Linked DNA regions of Homo sapiens: region 1 is linked to region 2. The links come from fine-mapping of genetic effects on gene expression. A gene starts in region 2. The other region holds a variant in brackets. All regions are shown on one strand. Distances are between the middles of the regions. Region 1 holds the start of GLIS2-AS1 (GLIS2 antisense RNA 1). Region 2 holds the start of PAM16 (presequence translocase associated motor 16).

Region 1 (10,717 bases), 24 kb after region 2:
TGCCTCAGTGTTCCCTTCTGTAAAGTGGCAGGTTCGGGCTGGGCTGCTCCCATAGCCTTCCCCTTCAGACAAGCGGTGAATCTGGTTTTCGGGTGACTCTGCTCTTGGAGGCAGGGCAGAAGTGGTGCCCACCACCCTGGGCCCAAGCACCGGGAATCCCTGAGAGGCACCTCCTGGGCTCAGACCCAGCCTCTACTGCCCAGGTTGGCCAGCGGCACCACCCCACAGCCTAGGGTGCAGGTCCTGGGACTACTGCCGCTCCTTCTGAATGCCTGGTTGCCCGACCAGCTCTGTTCCAGATCTGCCTAGAGGCCTCAGTTTGCATCGTGTGCCAGCCACGTGAGCTGGGCACTGCAGCTCCCACCTCCCTGCAGACATACGATGCTGGGCGGATGGAAGGACAAGCGTGCGGGCTTCCCATGAACCGGAAGCCGAGAGGGGCTGCAGCTACATGCTGGTGGACACACTTGGCCATTCTCCCTGTCACCATGACTGGATCAGGGCTAAGTCCCCCTGCCCTGCCCAGGGCCAGTACCTGAGGGCGGGGAGCCTGGAGAGCCAGGTGTGGGGCTGTCATCCACCAGGCCCAGCTCCCTGTGCAGAGCACGGGGCCGGACCACACCCAGCGTCCTCTCCCGCTTCTCTCTTGCCGCCCGGAGCTTGGTGATACTCAGCTTCAGGTCGAGCGGCTCGTCCAGGGAGTGCATGGTGAGGGGGCCGGAGTTGGAGGTGGCAGCAGGCAGTGGGCTCCCAGCTGGTCTTCACGCAGGAACCTGGGGAAGGACAGGAGCTGTGCTGTGGCACTGAGACCCCAGGCTTCTCCTCGGGCTGTACTCATGACAGTCTAACAGGAGCAGGAGCAGGGGGCAGTGTGAGGTTGTCTCCTGGGTAGGGAGACCCTCCGAGCGACCTGGCCGGCAGCTATCATGGGGGGAGAGCCAACAGCCTCCTCAGAGATTCCGCATCTGCTTCCCATGAGTCTCTTGGGGAAGACAAAGCTCACATTCTTCATTTTGCCATGAAACTGAATTTTATTTGCTGACAGAGTCTCGCTCTGTCACTCAGGCTGGAGTGCAAGTGGCACAATCATAGCTCACTGCAGCCTCGACCTCCTAGGCTCAAGCGATCCTCCCACCTCAGCCTCCCTGGTAGCTGGGACTACAGGCAGGCACCGCTCCTGGCTAATTAAAAAAAAAAATTTTCTTTTTTGTAGAGATCGGGTCTCTCCATGTTGCCCAAACTGATCTCGAACTCCTGGCCTCAAGCGATCCTCCTGCCTTGGCCTCCCAAAACGCTGGGACTACATGCCTGAGCCACCACGCTTGGCGAAACTGCGTCTTTTACAGGCATCGCCTCAGATCGCAGAGCTCAGAAGTGGAAAAACTATCAGATTTGCCAAGACCAGCTCGGTCGGGAGACTAATCCGGCGGCGCTAGAGGAATTAAAGACACATACGCAGAAATATAGCGGTGTGGGGTGGGAAATCAGGGGTCTCACAGCCTTCAGAGCTGAGAGCCTTGAACAGAGATTTACCCACGTATTTATTGACAGCAAGCCAGTCATTAGCATAGTTTCTATAGATTATAGACTAACTGAAAGTATTCCTTATGGGAAATAAAGGGATGGGTCTGGCTAGTTATCTGCAGCAGGAGCGTGTCCTTAAGGCACAGATCACTCATGCCATTGTTTGTGGTTCAAGAACGCCTGTGGCCGGGCGCAGTAACTCACACCTGTAATCCCAGCACTTTGGGAGGCCAAGGCGGGGAGATCACGAGGTCAGGAGATAGAGACCATCCTGGCTAACACGCTGAAACCCCAACTCTATTAAATAACAAAAAAAAAAATTAGCCAGGTGTGGTGGCGGGCGCCTGTAGTCCCAGCTACTCGGGAGGCTGAGGCAGGAGAATGGTGTGAACCCGGGACGCAGAGCTTGCAGTGAGCCGAGATCGCACCACTGCACTCCAGCCTGGGCGACAGAGCAAGACTCCGTCTCAAAAACAAACAAACAAACAAAAAGCCAAACGCTTTTAAGCAGTTTTTCCGCCCTGGGTGGGCCAGGTGTTCCTTGCCCTCATTCTGGTAAACCTACAACCTTCCAGCGTGGGCGTCATGGCCATCATGAACATGTCACAGCGCTGCAGAGATTTTATTTATGGCCAGTTTTGGGGCTAGTTTACAGCCAGATTTTGGGGGGCCTGTTCCCAACAAGATTCAAGGCCTGAAGCCAGATCTCCCGGGAACTGGCTAGCCGTGTCCTAACAGCCTTTTCTGACAGAGCAGGAGCCATGCTCCGGACTCCCGCCCTGTTTGACCCCAAAGATCTAGAACCAGGCCAGGGGGCAAGGAGCATCCTCTGAAATGGCCGGCAGGTAGCCACGCTCACCACCAAGGAACTCGCACCAGGCAAACCGAGAAAGTGGGCACAGCCAGGGGCCCCACCGCCCTCCCTGCAGAGGCCTAGAGGAGAGGCATCGCAAGCCAGGGAGCCCCAGGGCGCTGGGTCGCCACCAGGGGGCAGCTGGGGATTGTGGCCTGGCCTGGCCAGCTGGGGCAGGGTTGGTGGAGTTGACCAGCTGTATCTGGCGGTTAATATATAAATATGTAGAAATTATTTTTTACTGGAGATGGTATTCTTTTAGTATCACTTCCCATGCTGTAATTTTCATCATTTTTCTTAGAATTTCTCACTGGTTTAATTTTCATTTTCTTTTTGGAAATGGAGTCTCTCAGTCACCCAGGCTGGAGTGCAGTGGTGTGATCTGGGCTCACTGCAACCTCTGCCTCCCGAGTTCAAGCGATTGTCCTGCCTCAGCCTCCCAAGTAGCTGGGATTACAGGTGTACACCATCACACCCAGCTAATTTTTCTATTTTTAGTAGCGACAGCGTTTCACCATGTTGGCCAGGCTGGTCTCAAACTCCTGACCTCAGGTGATCTGCCCACCTCGGCCTCCCAAAGTGCTGTGATTACAGGTGTGAGCCACCTCGCCCCACCTGGTGTAATTTTCCTCACATGCAAATGATCTAACAGTATCCACCGACCCAAGAACAAGGTCAACACTTCATTCTAAACCCAAACTTCACATTCAGAGCAGCAATCTTTTCCTACGCGGTTAAACACGACATTTCCTTGCGTTTGTTCATTGGGATTATTACAACTTGAAAATCTAACTGCCGCACAATCACGCTGTGAGATCCCGTCTTTCGCGGTATTGGGGTCTTTACTCAATACCAAAGGGCGGCCATGGTGGACATAACTACTACATGGTGAAATACTTTGGATATGCCCCCGTGTGTTTCCCTGGGGGCTAGCATAGCCTGTGAGTGGGGAGAGATGCTGTCCACAGGGCAGGACAGGAAGGCAGCTCCCACGTCCTCCCCTTCTGCCCTGACTCTCCAAGCAAGTAGGGCATAAAATGGTCCCCCCTTCACTGGAGATCCTCTGCTTCTAGGGACACATCCCCAGACCCCACCCCAACATGGCTGACACGGGGGTCTCAGCACAGGGGGGCTGCCCACCTCTCCCAAGGCTGCATCATCAGAGCCAGGGCAGCTGCACTAGGCCGTGGGACCTAGGTCTGCGATTCGCCCCTGTTGGAGCTGTCAGATTGTTTGAATTTGCCTCCCAGGCCATGCATGGGCCAGGGGCTCCCAGAGATGCGGTGGGGTAGGGACCACACCCCCGCTAGCAGGTGGGTGGGTGACAGTGATGGATGGACCAGGGTCCCCTCCACTGTTTCTCTGGCTGGACAGGGAGTTGCCCTCTGCCTGAACCCCTGCCAGTTCCATCTGTCTATCTGTGTGTCTATCGTCCTGCTACCTGTTTATTTTTAGACACAGGCGCAATCCAGCCTCCCCGAAGCTCCTCTGTGCTGGAAGCCTGGACGGGGAGGAAGGAAGTAAATATTTATGCTGATGAAGAATTCAGGAGCCAGGAAGGGCTGGTGGCCTGGTCCCTTGGCTGGCCTGGGGCCACAGGCCTCCCCACAGCCTCTGTCCTCACCCCCACCCCCACCCTTCCGGAGAAGGGGACCACAAGGGCAGGATGGTTTGGGAACTGGGAATTCCAGCTGACGGGGACACTCACTGGCAGCGCTGCCCAAGCAACATCCTTTGGCACCTGCCCCACTGCCTTCCCAGGACAGATGGGGACTCGGGGAGCCAGGGGCCCTGAGTCACCTTGTTCTTAGGGCCTGCAGGGGACACTTCCCCAGGAGGAGCCTGTCTCCCCAGGTGGGGCCAGCCACACGGCCCAAAGCCAGAGGGAGGACTCCAATGCACCCCCTTCATCAGCAGGTCCAGTCCCCAGGGGCACCCCCACACACTTCCTGCCACTGGGTCCTGCCAGGGAGGCAGGGGTTCATTCCAATGCAGGCCAGAGCCCGGCACACGGCCTGCGTCCCTGCCCCCGGGAAAGGAAGGAGCTGCCCCCAGCCCTACACCTCCCAGCATCCCTGTTCCAGGCCCTCCCCACCCAGAGTTTTTCCTCCAATGGAGGCCCCACCCCAGAGGGGAGACGGTCAGTGACCCTGCTTCAGTTCTGACCTTGGCCAGGCTTAAAGCCTCCCCTTCCACCCCCGCCCCGACCGGCAGCAGCCAGTTCTGGGCTCTGCTCTGTGCTTTTGTTCCCGGCTGGGTGAAGGGGGCAGGCGAGAGCTAGGTTCCTGCTCTCCTGAAAGCCTCGGAGGCCCAGAGCGGGGAGCAGCGGGCCTGCAACCAGGGAACCCTGAGTGAGTGCCCATGAGCGGGTGGCCGTGGCTCTCCCCAGCGTAAGGCCGACAGCCTGGCTCTGGACAAGCTCAGCCAGAGGCCTGGGTGCTAATTACTGCGGGGTCCCGAGGGCAGGAGCCGGCTCTCGGTCAGGTGGGGGCACCCCGTGGATGCTCCCCGGGCGCAGCGCAAGGCCCGCCGGCCCCACGCCCCTCTGCGCCTCCTGGTGGAGCCTTCCGTTCCTCAGTTTCCCCCCGGTGGGACAGCGCAGCGTGGAGGGTGCACAGAGCCCAGGGCCGCGTCTCTCGAGCACTCAGCCTGGGATGCGCCCAGGGCAGCGCCCCCACACGCAAGGGCCCAGGGGTTGGGGCGAGGGCTGGGGTTGTCGGTGGGGGGTGGGGGTGGCCGCGGAACCGGCCGCTGCGCGGCTCCTCCAGCTGCAAAAGGAACTAATTAGAGCGGGGCGAGCGGGAGGAAGCGGCTGCGGCGAGGGAGGAAGCGCGCGGGGGCGGCCGCGGGGACCACCGGGACGGCGGGGGCTTCGGGGGACCGGGCCCTGCCCTTCCCACCCACCGCAGGGCGGGGGTCACCCGGAGGGTGGGCTGGGCGGGCCCCCCGCCACCCTGGCCGAGACAATGGCTGCTATTGTGTGCCCGACCGCAGCCCGAGCAGACGGCCCCCAGCTGCAGCGCTGGCGGAGCCACCCGGCCCCCCGCCCGCAGTCCCCGGCCAGGCCAGGTAGCCAAGGATCCCGCCCTGGCAGGCGGGGCCGGCCACTGTCCCCACCCTCCCTACTGGAAGGCACGGGGCGACCCAGCACACTCAGGGAAACTAAGGCCCGGAAAAGACAGTCTCTTCCAGGGCCCCTTGGCCTGGGGTGGGTCATACACCAGAGGGGGTAAAGGACCATTAGGTACTGACCACGTGTCAGGCCCATCTGTCCATGGATTCAATGACCCCTCTACAACCCTGCCTGGCAGTAGCTGCTGTCATTTTCCCGATCTCACAGATGGGGAAACTGAGGCTTGAGATCACTAGGCTAATAGGGAGCTGGTTGGAGTCCTGCTCTGAATAAAGCTCCTTCTAGGCCAGGCGCGGTGGCTGACGCCTGTAAGCCCAGCACATTGGGAGGCCGAGGCAGGAGAATCCCTTGAGTGCAGGAGTTCTACACCAGCCTGGGCAACATGGAAAAATCCCGTTTGAAGTAAAAAAATCAGCCGGTGGCCGGGCACGGTGGCTCATGCCTGTAATCCCAGCACTTTGGGAGGCCGAGGGCGGACCACCTGAGGTCAGGAGTTCCAGACCAGCCTGGCCAACATGGCGAAACGCTCTCTCTACTAAAAATACGAAAATTAGCCGGGCGTGGTGGCAGGTGTCTGTAATTCCAGCTACCCGGGAGGCTGAGGCAGGAGAATCGCTTGAACCAGGGAGGCAGAAGTTGCAGTGAGCTGAGATCGCGCCACTGCACTCCAGCCTGGGCGACGGAGTGAGACTCCATCTCGGAAAAAAAAAAAAAAAAAAAAATAGCTGGGCGTGGAAGCAGGGACCTGTGGTCCCAGCTACTCGGGAGGCTGAGGTGGGAGGATCGCCTGAGCCTGGGGAGTTTGAGGCTGCAGTAAGCCGAGATCACACCACTGCACTCCGGCCTGTCTCAAAAAACAACAAAAAAAGCTCCTCCTTTCCTGCTTGGGGGAGGGTGGCTGGCAGGCCCTAAGCCTGTGGAGGTGCAGGGTGCACTGGGGGGCTGTGTGCACCCACCCTGAGAACCACTTGGTCTCTTTGCAGAAGGAAGCGGGTCCTCTGTAAGATGGGGCTGCATCCCTGCCCCGCTCCCAGCAGCATGGGGTCAGGTGAGTGACCAGCGTGGCAGTGTTGTCAAGGGCAATGTGAGGAACACCCCTTGCCTTGGAGTGTCCTGCGAGTGCGCTTTTGGTCAGCAGTGGCCATTTAGCTGAGAACTTGGAGACAAGGCCTCAAGATGCATCTCTCAGAAGTCTATGTGGTCACCTTTGTTTTTTTTGTTTGTTTCTTTTTTGAGATGGAGTCTCACTCTGTCACCCAGGCTGGAGTGCAGTGGCACGATCTCAGCTCACTGCAAGCTC[C/T]GCCTCCCAGGTTCACAGCATTCTCCTGCCTCAGCCTCCTGAGTTGCTGGGACTACAGGCGCCCACCACCACACCCGGCTAATTTTTTTGTGTGTATTTTTTTAGTAGAGATAGGGTTTCACCGTGTTAGCCAGGATGGTCTCGATATCCTGACCTCGTGATCCGCCCACCTCGGCCTCCCAAAGTGCTGGGATTACAGGCGTGAGCCACCAAGTCTGGCCTTTTTTTTTTTTTTTTTTTTTTTTTTTAAGACACAGAGTCTTGCTCTGTCTCCCAGGCTGGACTGCAGTGGCGTGGTCATGGCTAACTGCCGCCGAGGCTCAAGAGATCCTCCTGCCTCAGCCTGCAGAGCAGCTAGGACCACAGGTGCACCACCACCACACCCAGCTCATTTTTAAATTTTTTATTTTGCAGAGATGGGGGGGTCTCCCTGTGTCATCCAGGCTGGTCTCGATCTCCTGGACTCAAGCCATCCTCCTGTCTCTGCCTCCCAAAGTGCTAGGATTACAGGCAGGAGCCACCACGCCCAGCCCGTCATCTTCTAATTTAACAGAAAGAGGAAGTGAGTCCCTGGTCACTCCTGAACCAGTCAGAGAAACCCTGGTCTGTGGGTGTCCCTGAGTCTATTACTGGAACCATCACTTCAGCAGTATGGTCTTACAGATGGGGAAACTGAGGGCTGAAGGGGGAGGCATCCAGCCCAGGCTGCACAAGTAGGTGGCAAACCCACAACCAGAAGCCACGGGCAAGCAGCATGAGGACAGTACCCATAGCCAGGTGCGGGTACTGTGAAGGCAGGTGCTGTTTCATCCCCATTTTACAGATGCAAAAACTGAGGCTCAGGGGAGTGAAGTGACCCATCCAAGGTCCCACAGCTTGTCCGTGGCAGAGCTGGGTTTCAACCCCAGGTAAGTCCAGAAGCCATGTTCACTATTGGCCCTTCCTATGTCAGGGGCTCAGGCTTGGTACCCCCTCCCCGCCCAGGGACTTGTGGGGCTAGGAGGGATAGCAGAGCAGGCAGTGGGTGGGCGCTGGAGGGGCTGGCTGGGGTGGGGGGCCCACCAGGAGGCTTGGAGAGCCGAGGGCAGATCTGCTGCCAAAGCAAACGGCCCCACAGCCCCAGATTCCTGGGAACCAGCTGCGGCTCCCTGCTCTGGCCAAGAGCTCCACCCTCCTTGGCCGCCCAGCAGCAGGGGCTGGCGGGCAGGGGCAGGGCCTGCTGGGGGCCCCAGGCAGGAGGGCTCGTCCTCTCAGGGCCCCCCTTCCTGACCAGGCAACAGAACCGGACTCGAAATCTGGGGCCCCACCCGGCTCTGCTACTCCCTTTGCGTGTCTCTTCAGTCTGCGCCTCATCCCCCTCATCCCAAATGGGATTATATAGGACCCCCATGTTGGGTTTCAGGGAGAAACCAATGCAGTGCTGCACATCCAATCACTATTGAGTGCTTCTCCTTCGTCCGTAACGTTCAGCACGGAGAACAGTGCCTGGCACATAGTAGGTGCTTAATAAAACGTGCTGAATGAATCGTCGCCAGTGTGCATGAGTCCATAGCCTTTGGCCCATCTACCGCTGTGAGGGCAGCTGAGTGGGGACTGGCCATCCCCTCTATGCCACTGCAGTCTCACCCTGAACCAGGAGAACCTGGGCTCTGCCACCTGCCAGCCAGCGTGCACCCTAAACAAGCCTATGCCCCTCAAAGAACCTCAGGCCTCTTCAATCCTGGGGAGTGACCACAGCTGGCCCTAACCACCTTCCAGAGCCCAACTGCATCAAAGAAAGAGCACTACAAGGCCCCGGGAAGGCCTGATCAACCCTGGAAGGAGCTGGCCGCAGACAGGCCTCCTCCCAGGACTGGAGGGGGAGGAGCTTATCCTGAGGCCTGGCCCAGCAGATCCCAGGAGAGGGGCCAGGGCAGGCGGCACTTCCTGGAAGAGTGGGGGATTCACCGTCCCTGGGAACCTTTGGCTCAGTAGGCAGCCCCTCCCCCTCCCAAGACGGGGCACTCAGCCAGCACCCCCGGACCTTTTGGGAGGGCAGACCCCCTCCCGGGGTGGGAACACAAGGGGTCCGAGGTGACCCAGCCAGGGCTGACCTCTGCCCTCTGCCGTGGGGTCCTCGGGAAAGCACCTGAAGATGGGATGTGCCAGGGATCTTTTTTCTGCGTGTTCACAGAGTGTGCCCCAGGGCCAGGCTGCCTGGTTACAGCCCCCTGTGCCACCCCTGGCTGTGGGAACTCAGAAAGGCCCTGCTGTCTCTGAGCCTTGGTTTCCTTGTAGGTAACAGACACCACGGCAATGGTCCCTGGGACTCAGGGCATCTTGCAAGGGAGGGCCTTGTCCTCATGCCTGCCATAAAGAAGCTGCCAGCTACTGGTAACCTAAAGGATTCTTGTTTCCGGCCCCAGGCTGGGGGTTCCCTGCACAGCAACTTGGGCCTGCCAAGGTCACCCAGATAATTCAGGCAGAGCTGAAGCTGGAAGACGGGCCGGAGGGCTTCCCTGGCCTGCACCAGCCCGGGCTTCCTAGGAGATGCCCCACCAGAGGCACTTCCTTCTCCAACGCCAGCAGGGAGGGTGACACCGGGCTCCGGGAGCCCCGGCACACACACGCACACTCACACAGATGGCCATGGCAGTCCAGCTGCAGGGCCGGCCTGGCACAGAGGCCTCCCCATCCTGGTGGCTCCGGGCCCCTGCTGCAGTGGCCTCCACCCCCCCGCTGCCTGCCCGCTGCTGCACCTTTGCACAACTATGTCTGGTATTTTCCTGTCTGCCCAGCTTTGGGGGGGTGCTTGGAGCTATGATCACCGCCTGCACCTGGGCCCCAGCCAGAGGAAAGCCCGCCCCGCAGCCCCCACACCTGCCCACCCACCCGGGCTGGGAGGGGAGGGGACCAGAGCACTGGGCCCTGCCACCCAAATCCCTGGGAGGGGCTGGCACCAGGGAGCGAGACAGGGATGCACGCCCAGCAAGGCTGGGGCACAGACAGCCCAGGCCCTGCCAGGCGGCACTGCCATTCTCAGCAGACCCAGCCAGAGCTATCTGAGGCCAGCAAAGGGATGGGCCAGTGTAGCACAGGACATGAGCAGGCACCCACAGCACCCCCGGATGTACAGACACCTGTGCACAAATGTGGCACACACAGGACATCACAGTAACCCCTTGCCCCAGTGTCGGGGCCAGGACTCAGGAGCCTTGGCTTCTGGGGGAGAGCAGGGATGAGGCCGGGTCCCCAGAGCGAAGGAAACACCGCGCCTCCCAAGCCACGCCTGGCTGCAGGCAGATCCCACAAGGAGCTCCTAAGTCCTGGGGGGTCGGGGCAGGCCCGTGGCCCACGCCTCCCCTGCCTGGGGCCAGGTACCAGGTCCACTGGGAACGGCACCCGCCAACTCCGAGAGCAGGAGTGGGTAAGGCGGGCGGTGGACCTTGGCCTGCCCTCCTGCCTCGGTTCTCCAACCACGCATTCATGCATTCCAACGCCAGGCCCTGCTAGATCGAACCGGACCTTGAGGGTGCCCCGACCAAGGTGGGGTGGGAGAAACAGTGTAGGGGGGGGGCTGCTCCTGCAGGGGGTTGGGCACAGATCCGGGTCAGCCTCATGGATATGGGGTGAAGAGCCTTGGGGAGGTGGGAGCCCTGCGGGTCGGCGCCCGGTCAGCATGCCTGCTGCACACAGTCCATCACCCTGATGACCCCGCGAATGGATGCCATTTTCCCCATTTTCCATGTGGGGAAACCTGCCACTGTCACAGCCAGCAAGGGGCACAGCTGGGTTCGCCAGCAGACCCCAAAGCCCAGTGCCACAGAGGACCAGAGGCTATGGCCCGGCTGATCTGCAGTGACCCTACCAGTCATGGAGTAGACGAGGAGGCAGGAGAGAAAGAGGCCCCTCAGAGAGGCTGGGACAG
Region 2 (10,717 bases):
ACCCAGAGGAGGCGGAGGTTGCAGTCAGCCTAGGTCACATCATTGCACTCCAGCCTGGGCAACAAGAGCAAAACTCCATCTCAAAAAAAAAAAAAAAAAAAGAAAGAAAGAAAAGAAAGAAAGAAATCCCCGAGGGCTTGGCACCAAAGAGCCCTAACGAAGGGGACTCTCTGACACGTGTCCTTGCTCTGTCCCAGTGAGCCAAGCCCCCCGAGAGGCCCCTGCTCGTCGGGCCCCATCCTCAGCGCAGTACCTGGAAGAAAAGTCTGACCAGCAAAAGAAGGAGGAGGTAGGCATGGGAGAGAGCAGCTGTGCGGAGGTGACAGAGTCCTGGCTGCACCTGGCCACGGCCCCTTAGTTCTCCATCCCCAACCCAGACTGGGACAGCAGCCACATGTCACGTCCCCTTCACACCAGAGCCTGGTGGGGAGACCTTCCAGAGCCCTACCACTGACCATGGGGCCCGGGAAGTGGGGGAGGGCAGTGGGAGCCCTGCCCTGGCCAGGCCAAACCCAGCCTAAGCCGGCAGTTCTGGGCCCAAGTGCTTTTGGGACCTTGGAGTATATTTTGAGCACTTGAGGCCATGTGCAGAGATAGTAGCCCTTGTATCTGGTGCCACATGCCGCAGCCTCTCAGTCTCTTACTCCCCCTGTCTCTTCTTTGTGTCTTTTTCAATAGAAACCCATCGATTTTGTCAGGGCTGTAATTAAAATGGCTCTTTTGAGGCCGGGCACGGTGGTTCATGTCTGTAATCCTAACACTTTGGGAGCCCAAGGCAGGCGGATTGCTTGAGCTCAGGAGTTTGAGACCACCCTGGGCAACACGGTGAAACCCCGTCTGTACTAAAATACAAAAATTTAGCCGGGCATGGTGGCGGGCGCCTGTGATCCCAGCTACTCGGGAGACTGAGGCAGGAGAATCACTTGAACCCAGGAGGTGGAGATTGCAGTGAGCCGAAATCGTGCCACTGTACTCCAGCCTGGGTGACAGAGCGAGACTCCGTCTCAATAAATAAATAAATAAATAAAAATAAAAATAAAAATAAAATATAGTGGCTCTTTTGGCCAGGCATGGTGGTTCACACCTGTAATCCCAGCACTTTGGGAGACCAAAGCAAGAGGATATAAGTGATGGAGTTTGAGACCCAGCCTGAGACCAGTGAAACCCCATCTCTACAAAAAAATTTTTTAAATTAACCAGGTGTGGCCAGGCATGGTGGCTCACGCCTGTAATCCCAGCACTTTGGGAGGCCGAGGAGGGCGGATCACCTGAGGTTGGGAGTTCGACACCAGCCTGACCAACATGATGAAACCTCGTCTCTACTAAAAACACAAAATTAGCCGGGCATGGTGGCGCATACCTGTAATCCCAGCTACTTGGGAGGCTGAGGCAGGAGAATCGCTTGAACCCAGGAGGCAGAGGTTGTGGTGAGCCGAGATTGTGCCATTGCACTCCAGCCTAGGCAACAAGAACAAAACTCTGTCTCAAAAAAATAAATAAATAAAATAAAAATTAACCAGGTGTGGTGTTACACACTTGTAGTCCCAGCTACTTGGGAGGCTGAGGCAGGAGAATTGCTTGCACCCAGAAAGTCAAGGCTGCAGTGAGCCATGATTGCACCACTGCACTCCAGCCTTGGTGACAGAGCAAGACCTTGTCTCTCTCTAAAACAAACAAACAAACAAAAAGGCCGGGCGCTGTGGCTCACGCCTGTAATCCCAGCACCGTGGGAGGCCGAGGCGGGCGGATCACGAGGTCAGGAGATCGAGACCATCCTGGCTAACACGGTGAAACCCCCGTCTCTACTAAAAATACAAAAAATTAGCCGGGCATGGTGGTGGGCGCCTGTAATCCCAGCTCCTTGGGAGGCTGAGGCAGGACAGTGGTGTAAACCCGGGAGGCAGAGCTTGCAGTGAGCCGAGATCGCGCCACTGCACTCCATCCAGCCTGGGCGACAGAGCAAGACTCCGTCTAAAAAAAAAAAAAAAGTTCTTTTCACAGCCTTGTCAGGGTTGTTCTTGGAGTGGGAGAGGGAACAGGGAGTCCTATTCCCTTACCTACCCTTCTTCTGCCCTCTCTCCCAGCTGCTGAATGCCATGGTGGCAAAACTGGGGAACCGGGAGGACCCACTCCCCCAGGACTCCTTTGAAGGCGTGGACGAGGACGAGTGGGTGAGTAGTGAGTGGCCTCACTTCCCGGCAGGCAGCGCGGTCCCTCGCACATGCCACGGTGCATGCCTCCTCCCTTCCCAGGCCCTCCTGACTCCCTCCCACCTCTTGGTGTTTCGCCCCAGGACTAGCCTGCGCCCCCGTCACCTCCACCTCACCTGTGCTGCCACTTCCTAGTGCACACCTCACGGCTCATCCTCAAGCTGGAAGATACCTCTCTGGCCCCGGCACATGTCACCCCTGCACTCCTGCCTTCCCGTGGGCACTTCCACATCCTCTGGGCCTCTGGCAGTTCCCAGGGACTGTTTTCACCTCTGCTGTCTCTGGGGTCAGCTGCTGCTCATCAGCTGCCCGCTAGCATGTGGCCAGGGGTGCAGGGTGGCGGGGGGTCAGCAGCATGTCCCTGGGCAGGCCCTGGGCACCCTGTCTCCCCTGGTCTCACTGCTGACCTGGGCTGGTCCCAGCCTGGATTGGCCTCATCCAGGATCTTTGGTCACCCCACGCTGCCCCATCTTGCCTGCTGTTCCAGTTCTGGTCAAGGGCCTTGGGGGCTGGCCCCCCACCAGGCCTTCTAGAGCAGCACCAGTCTCAGGGCCCTGGGACCAGCTGCCCTACTTCCCAGGTTTGTAGCCAGGAGAAGGGGGCATCACAGAGCTGATGGTCCAATAAGGGGGGTGTGAGCCCCGCAGGGACTGGCCCGCACCTGCCTTGGATGTTTTCAGCAATTAAACTTTTTTAAGCTGGCCACCTCTTGTGCTGCTGTGGTCTCTGGGCTGGCTGGAAAGGGAAGGGGACAGGAATGTGGGTGACAGGGGTCTGGCCCTGGGCTCCCCTTTATCTCAGCCTCACTCTGGTCCCAAGGCCCAATCACCTGCGCACTGCTGGGAGTCATTCGCTCACCATGCAGGTTCCTGGCAGTGCTCTGGATGGCGGGATGCTATAAAGGACAGGAGAGATAAGGTCTTGCAAGGACCTTCAGCTTCTTACAGCCTCCTTATGCAGGGGAACCAGACTGCACACGAGCATATAGAGTGTGAAGACAGCAGTAAAGAAGAGAAACTGGCTGGGCACGGTGGCTCATGCCTATAATACTAGCACTTTGGGAGGCCAAGGTGGGAGGATCGTTTGAGGCCAGGAGTTCAAGACCAGCCTGGCCCACATGGTAAAACGCTGTCTCTACTAAAAATACAAAAAGTAGCCAGGTGTAGTGGTAAGCGCCTGTAATCCAAGCTACTTGGGAAGCTGAGGGAGGAGAATTGCTTGAACCCAGGAGTCAGAGGTTGCAGTGAGTCAAGATCCTGCCATTGCACTCCAGCCTGGGTGACAGAGCAAGACTCAGTCTCAAAAAACAAACAAACAAACAAAAAAACCTGTGGGACAGGAAGCAACTGGGATGCAGCGAGGCAGGGAATTCAGGGCCTGAGAAGGTGACTTTCAGCTAAGAGCCAAGACTTGAAGGCTGATGAGGAGCCAGCCAGGGAGAGAGCCACTTCCGAGGCAAGGAAGTACAATGTGGGCACAGAGAGAGGAATGTGGAGGCCAGGAGGAAGAGGAAGAAGGGCAGCGGTGTAGAGTAGGATTCCAGGTGGCCCAACTTTCATCCCACCATTTGCCGAATGCTGTGCGCCAGATGCTCTTCCAGGCGCTTGACATCTAACAGCAGAGAAGAGAGAGGAAATGCTTGCCCAAAAGGAACTCCCATTCTAGTGGAAGGAAACAGATTCTCAACAATAAACATAAAAATAAAGGGAGGCCAAGGTGGGAGGATTGCTTGAACCCAGGAGTTTGAGGTCAGACTGGGCAACATAGGGGAACCCTTGTCTCTACAAAGAATACAAACATTAGCTGGGCGCGGTGGCTCACGCCTGTAATCCGAGCACTTCGGGAGGCCAAGGCAGGCGGATCACGAGGTCAGGAGCACGAGACCATCCTGGCTAACACGGTGAAACCCCGTCTTTACTAAAAATACAAAAAATTAGCCGGACATGGTGGCCCATGCCTGTAGTCCCAGCTACTCAGGAGGCTGAGGCAAGAGAATCTCTTGAACCCAGGAAGCAGAGGTTGCAGTGAGCCGAGGTCATGCCACTGCACTCCAGGCTGGGCAACAGGGAGACGCTCTCAAAAAGACAAAAAACAAACATTAACCACATGTGTTGGCACATGCCTGTGGTCCCAGCTACTCAGAAAGCTGAGGTGAAAGTATCACTCAAGGCTGGAAGGTCAAGACTGCAGTGAGCCATGATCATGCTACTGTACTGCAGCCTGGGCAACAGAGTGAGACCCTATCTTGAAAAAAAAAAATTTTTTTTTGGCTGGGCACGGTGGCTTACACCTGTAATCCCAGCACTTTCGGAGGCTGAAGTGGGAGGATCACTTGAACCCAGGAGGTGGAGATCGCAGTGAGCCAAGATTGGGCCACTGCTCTCCAGCCTGGGTGACAGAGCAAGACTTCATCTCAAAAAAAAAAAAAAAAGGAAAAATAATTTAAAAATAAAAAACCGGTTGGGCACAGTGTCACATGCCTATAATCCCAGCACTTTGGGAGGCTGTGGCGGGTGGATCATTTGAGACCAGTAGTTCAAGACCAGCCTGGCCAACATGGTGAAACCCTGTCTCTACTAAAAATTCAAAAATTAATGGGGCATGGTGGTCCATGCCTGTAATCCCAGCTACTCAGGAGGCTAAAGCATGAGCATCGCCTGAACCTGGGAGGTGGAGGTTGCAGTGAGGCAGGATTGTGCCACTGGACTCCAGCCTGGGCGACAGGGTGAGACCCTGTCTCAAAATGATAAATAAAATAAATAAGTAAATTATGTGGTATGGTAGAGGGTGATCAGAGTCTTGGAAGAAAAATAGAGACAAGAAGGGAGGATAAGCCAGTCACAAAAGGCTGCACATTGTATGATTCAATTTCTTCTTTTTTTTCATTTTTCATTTTTACCTTTTTTTTTTTTTTTTTTTTTTTTGAGGCAGGGCCTGACTCTGTCACCCAGGCTGGAGTGCAGTGATCACAGCTCACTGCAGCCTGTACCTCCCGGGCTCAAGAGATCCACCACTCAGCCTCCCAAGTAGCTGGGATTACAGGCACCTGCCACCACACCCGGCTAATTTTTGTATTTGTAGAGATGGGGTTTCACCATGTTGCCCAGCCTGGCCTTGAGTTCCTGACCTCAAGCGATCCACCTCGGCCTCCCAAAGTTTTGAGATTGCAGGCATGAGCCACCACGCCTGGCTTGTATGATTCCATTTCTATGAAATGTCCGGAACCTGTGAATCCATAGAGAGAAAAATGAGTGGTTGACAGGGGCTGGGGGAGGGGGCTGGGGAGTGACTAATGGGTGATGAAAACGTTCTGGAACTAATAGTGGTGACAGTGGCACAGCTCTGTGAATAAAAGGCATTGGACTGTGCACTTGAAAATCATGAAATCTACAGTGTATGGATTATATCTCAATAAAGCTGTTACTTTTTTCATTCATGGAGGGCAAGTCACGGCGTTTTAAGGGGTCCAGGTGGGCCTCATTGAGGTGACATTTGAGCAAAGATTTGAAGAAGGGAACGAGCTTCTCAGGCAGGAGGAATGTGGATGAAACCTATTTTGAAGTTTTCTATTTTCTAAAGTATTTTTGAGAATTTAGCATCCTACTCCATATTATGTTCATTGATTTCATATAATGTTGCATTCCCAAATATTTTGGCAAAATCAAGGGCAGAAATCGCCCCACGTCTGACCGATGTGCTTAGCTGCTCCAGCGCACTGGGGTAAGCACGCGGGCAATTGAGACTCCCGGTAACGCCCCTTGCCCTCCCAAGCCCGCCCCCAGTTATCCAGAGCCCGACGCAGGCTCAGTCAAACCCCGCCTCCGACCCCGCCCCGAGCCGCTAAGACGCTCCCGGTGGCCCGCCCTTAGACTGAGGCAATGCGCATGCCCAGCGCCGTATCGCGCACGCGCTCTCTGCGGCTTTCCTTGACCTCTGACCCGCCGACCACGCTTGATCCCCGGCCGCGGGGCCAGGAAGTCGGAGTTTGAGCCCCGGAGGCAGAGCGGCTGCCATGGTGAGCCCCGAGTCGGGCGCTACCGGGGAGGGGAAGCCGAGTCGGGCCGGGGGCCGGGGGCCGGGCGGCGAGCTCCGGGCTGGGCGGCGGGCGCCGTGCGCCCCCTGCGTGCCCGGCGGGAAGCATGGTCTGGGGGCGTTGCACCCGGGGGAATCGAGGCCGGCAGCGGCGGCACCGGCGGCCTCAGGGCCAGGGAAAACCGTCTGCCTGGAAGAGGCCGGGCAAACGTGGTCGCGCTGTGCCTAGCCCGCGTGTGAGCGAGCAGCCGTGGGCAGCGGTGGAGCATGAGTCTGGCTGGTGAGCGCCTCCCCTGCCCTGGAACCTTACAGCGCTGCAGAGTCGATGTTGCTGCCCTGTTGTTATCCCCAGTGGAAAGCTGGCCTTTCCAGGGAAGTGGCTGACCTGGGACTTGAACTAGGCCCCGAGACACCGAGCACGGAGCGTTTGTGTGATATCGTTGGCACGTAGAGCCAGTCAACAGACCTGCGCCACACTGTCAGGTCACCTAGGGTAGCTTTAAAAGTGCAGGTTTGGCTGGGCGCGGTGGCTCACGCCTGTAATCCCAGCACTCTGGGAGGCCGAGGCGGCGGATCACGAGGTCAGGAGTTCGAGACCAGCCTGGCCAACATGATGAAACCCGGTCTCCACCAAAAAATTTAAAAAATTAGCCGGGTGGGGTGGTGCGCGCCTGTAGTCCAAGCTACCCGGGAGGCTGAGGCAGGACAGACGCTTGAACCCGCGAGACAGAGGTTGCAATGAGCCGAGATCCGCCAGTGCACTCTAGCCTGGGCGACAGGGTGAGACTGCGTCTCAAAAAAAAAATTATATATATGTATTATATATACCGTATACATTTATGTATACTACATATTATTATGTTATATATATTTTTATATATCATGTATTTTATATATATATATACACACACACACACATAATATATACATATGTTAGCCAGGCATGGTGGCACACACCTGTAATCCCAGCTGCTTGGGAAGTTGAGGCGCCAGTATCGCTTGAACCCAGGAGGCAGAGGCTGCAGTGAACCAAGATTGTGCCACTGCACTCCAGTCTGGGCGACAGGGCAAAACTCTCTCAAAAAGAAAAAGAGGGGGAAAAAAAAAGTTCAGGTTCTTGAGCTCTATCCCTGGAGGTTCTGCACACGTAAGTTCCCCAAGTGACTCTGTTGCAGCTGGTTCGGGGAGCCACTTCTTAACTAACATAGTAATAAGGATAATGTAACAGCTAACGGCGTACAAGTGCCAGCCCCTGAGCTAAGGCTTTATGTAGAGTCTCTCATTTAGTGTTTATGAAGTCCTGCTGTCATTGTCCTTATTTTACAGATAAGGAACCTGAGCCCCAGACAGTTTTGACTCCACCATAGTCATGCATCCCATGGTGTCAGAGACCTCTTTTGAGCCCAGCTCTGTCCCAAAACTCATGGGGTTTTTTTGGTTTGTTTTTTGAGATAGGATGTCTGTCTGTCGCCCCGGCTAGGATGCAGTGGAGCGATCCTAGCTCACTGCAGCCTTGAACTCCTAGGCTCAAGCCATCCTCCTACCTTAGACCCCCAAGTAGTTGGGCCTACAGGTGAGTGCCAGCACACCTGGCTAATTTTTAAATTTTATGTAGAGGTGGGGTCTTGCTGTGTTGCCCCAGATGGGTCTCCTAGGCTGGAGTACAGTGGTACGATCACAGCTCACTGCAGCCTCAACCTCCTGGGGCTTAGGTGATCCTCCCATTTCATCCTCCCCAGTAGCCTCAGCCTCCCGGGTAGTTGGGACAACAGGCATGCTCCACTATGCCCAGCTAATTTTTTGTATTTTTTGTAGAGATGCAGTTTCGCCATGTTGCCAGGCTGGTCTCAAACTTCTGGGCCCAAGCAGTCCTCCTGCCTCGGACTCCCAAAGTGCTGGGATTATAGGCGTGAGCCACCGCACCCAGCATGACAGTATATTAACAGGAAAAGAAAGTGCTGGCCGGGCACGGTGGCTCACACCTGTAATCCCAGCACTTTGGGGGTCTCAGGCGGGTGGATCACGAGGTCAGGAGATCAAGACCATCCTGGCTAACATGGTGAAACCCCGTCTCTACTAAAAATACAAAAAATTAGCCGGGTGTGGTGGCAGGCACCTGTAGTCCCAGCTACTCAGGAGGCTGAGGCAGGAGAATGGCTTGAACCCGGGAGGCCGAGCTTGCAGTGAGCCGAAGGTCGCGCTACTGCACTCCGGCCTGGGTGACAGAGCAAGACTCCGTCTCAAAAAAAAAAAAAAAAAAAGAAAGTGCTAGGCCGGGTACGGTGGCTCACGCCTGTAATCCCAGCACTTTGGGTGGATTACCTGAGCTCAGGGGTTCGAGACCAGCCTGGGCAACACGGTGAAACCCTCTCTGTACTAAAAATACAAAAAATTAGCCGGGCATGGCAGCGTGTGCCTGTAGTCCCAGCTACTCAGGAGGCTGAGGCAGAAGAATTTCTTGAACCCGGGAGGCAGAGGCTGCAGTGAGCCGAGATCGCACTACTGCACTCCGGCCTGGGCGACAGAGCAAGACTCCATCTCCAAAAAAAAAAGAAAGTGCTGTCGGAAGGTATACATGGGAGAGCCTGGAAAGGGTTTCACCCGGGGGATGGGGAATGATATTAGGTCCTGAGGGATGTTGGGTTTTGACAGGATCAGGGTAGAAGGGAGGATGTTCAAGGTGGAGGAACTCAGAACAGCAAAGGCCCTGAGGAGTACAGAAGTATGAGAGCGGCTCTAGGAGCAGAGGGTGTGGCTGCAGCGTGGAGAGAGGTGAGGTTGAGAAGTTGAGGCCAGACCAGGCGCTGTGAATGCCAAGCTGGGGAGTGGACCAAATCTGCAGGCGGCGGTGGAGAATTGTGTGTTTACTGGGAGATGGCCAGAACCCTCCCGCAGAAGGGTTAGGAGGCGCTTGGAAACCCTGCCTGGGGACATGGAGTTCATGAGACAGCAGATTGGGCAAAGCTGCAACAGCCATATTCATTCAGATGCACCAGGGGCACTTACTGCGCCAGCCACTGGCCAGGTCCCTGATGTTGTGGCACGTGCTACAGTTGTGGTCCTGACCTTTCTCCTGTCTAGTTGTGATGCCCGTATCTATTCTCAGGGGCCCTGGGTGACCAGAGTGTCCTTGAGAGTGAGTCTCAGGCTGTCTGCTTATCTACCCAGAGCCTGGGGCTTGGCCTCAAAGGCGCATTGCACGCGAATCTCAAAGACACAAGTCAGTGTAAGCCCCATTGCTGAGTGCCTCCCACAGCACTGTCTGTGGTCCCAGCTGCTGGGATCTGGTCCTGCCTTGGGCCAGGTTGCTGCCCAACAACGAAGTGCACATGCTGCCCCCACGCATGCCAGGATTGGATCCTGTGCTTCTGACTGCTGCTCTCTGACAGCCGCGTGGCCTGAAGTTGGATGCCAAGTCAGCTGGGTCCTCTCACCTGGGACCCTCAGGCCCAAGTGTCAGTCGGTGGACTATGGGATGTTTGGAGCCTCTGGGAGGGGCCTCAGGCAGTGGTTGTTTTGGTCACCCATGGTAGCCACAGCTGGCAGAGCTCTGCTCCCTGTGAATGAGCTCTGAACTCAGCCTGACCCATGGCAGAAGCTCAGGGGATGTTGGGGTACTGGATAGGTGGATGAGGGGCTTGCCTGCACCGCCTAGTTCTGGACCTGCCGCTGTTTGTCCATGTGGTGTTAATGGGCATTGCCTCCTGAGGGCCTTACTGTCCTCTTGTGAGGAGGGTGTTATTCTCTCCATCTTGCAGTTAAGAAAACTGAGGTAGGCTGGGCACAGTAGCTCACACCTGTAATCCTAGCACTTTGGGAAGCCGAGGAGGGCAGTTCATGCGAACCTAGGAGTTCAAGACCAGCCTGGGCAACATGGCGAAACCCCATCTCTCCAGAAAAGTACATTTAGCCAAATGTGGTGGCGTGTGCTCAGCCTCCAGAAGTTATGAAATTTCCACCTACTTGTGAAATCCTAACCCACTTGTGTTTGTTCATTCCCCTAATGGCCCATATCACATCCCGCCTGTTAAGGAAAGAGCAGGTCCTCGGAGGCTGAGTACAAGTAGCTCCAGCTACTCGGGAGGCTTAAGCAGGAGAATCTCTTGAGGCTGGGAGGCTGAGGCTGCAAGTGAGCCATGATTGCACCACTGCACTCCAGCCTGGACGACAGAGTTAGACTCTGCTTCCAAAAAAAAGGCCAGGTGTGGTGTCTCATGCCTGTAATCCCAGCACTTTGGGAGGCCGAGGCGGGTGGATCACCTGAGGTCAGGAGTTTGAGACCAGCCTGACCAACATGGTGAAACCTCGTCTCTATTAAAAATACAAAATTAGCTAGGCTTGGTTGTGTTCACCTGTAATCCCAGTTACTTGGGAGGGTGAGGCAGGAGGATCGTTTGAACTGGTGAGGTGGAGGTTGCAATGAGCCGAGATTGAACCACTGCACTCTAGCCTGGGTGACAGAGCGAGAGTCAGTC

The links. PIP is the estimated chance that this variant, and not a neighbour inherited with it, causes the effect.
Region 1: its variant is fine-mapped to the expression of PAM16 in whole blood (INTERVAL, PIP 0.98).

Annotation. Positions count from the first base shown.
Region 1 is chr16:4,322,271-4,332,987 of GRCh38, reverse strand. It overlaps GLIS2 (GLIS family zinc finger 2), which reads right to left. Exons shown (of 7, transcript NM_032575.3): 2 at 536-773. The coding sequence starts at 707. GLIS2-AS1 (GLIS2 antisense RNA 1) reads left to right here and starts at 4,648. Exons shown (of 4, transcript NR_110901.1): 1 at 4,648-4,728; 2 at 6,494-6,558; 3 at 7,634-7,718; 4 at 8,213-8,340. RefSeq lists enhancers at 3,420-4,420, 7,454-8,238, 9,810-10,595. The variant C/T (reference allele first, on the strand shown) is at 6,811.
Region 2 is chr16:4,346,740-4,357,456 of GRCh38, reverse strand. PAM16 (presequence translocase associated motor 16) reads left to right here and starts at 6,136. Exons shown (of 5, transcript NM_016069.11): 1 at 6,136-6,225. The coding sequence starts at 6,223. It overlaps CORO7-PAM16 (CORO7-PAM16 readthrough), which reads left to right. Exons shown (of 31, transcript NM_001201479.2): 26 at 198-289; 27 at 2,085-2,171. It overlaps CORO7 (coronin 7), which reads left to right. Exons shown (of 28, transcript NM_024535.5): 26 at 198-289; 27 at 2,085-2,171; 28 at 2,294-2,915. The coding sequence ends at 2,299. RefSeq lists an enhancer at 9,608-10,108.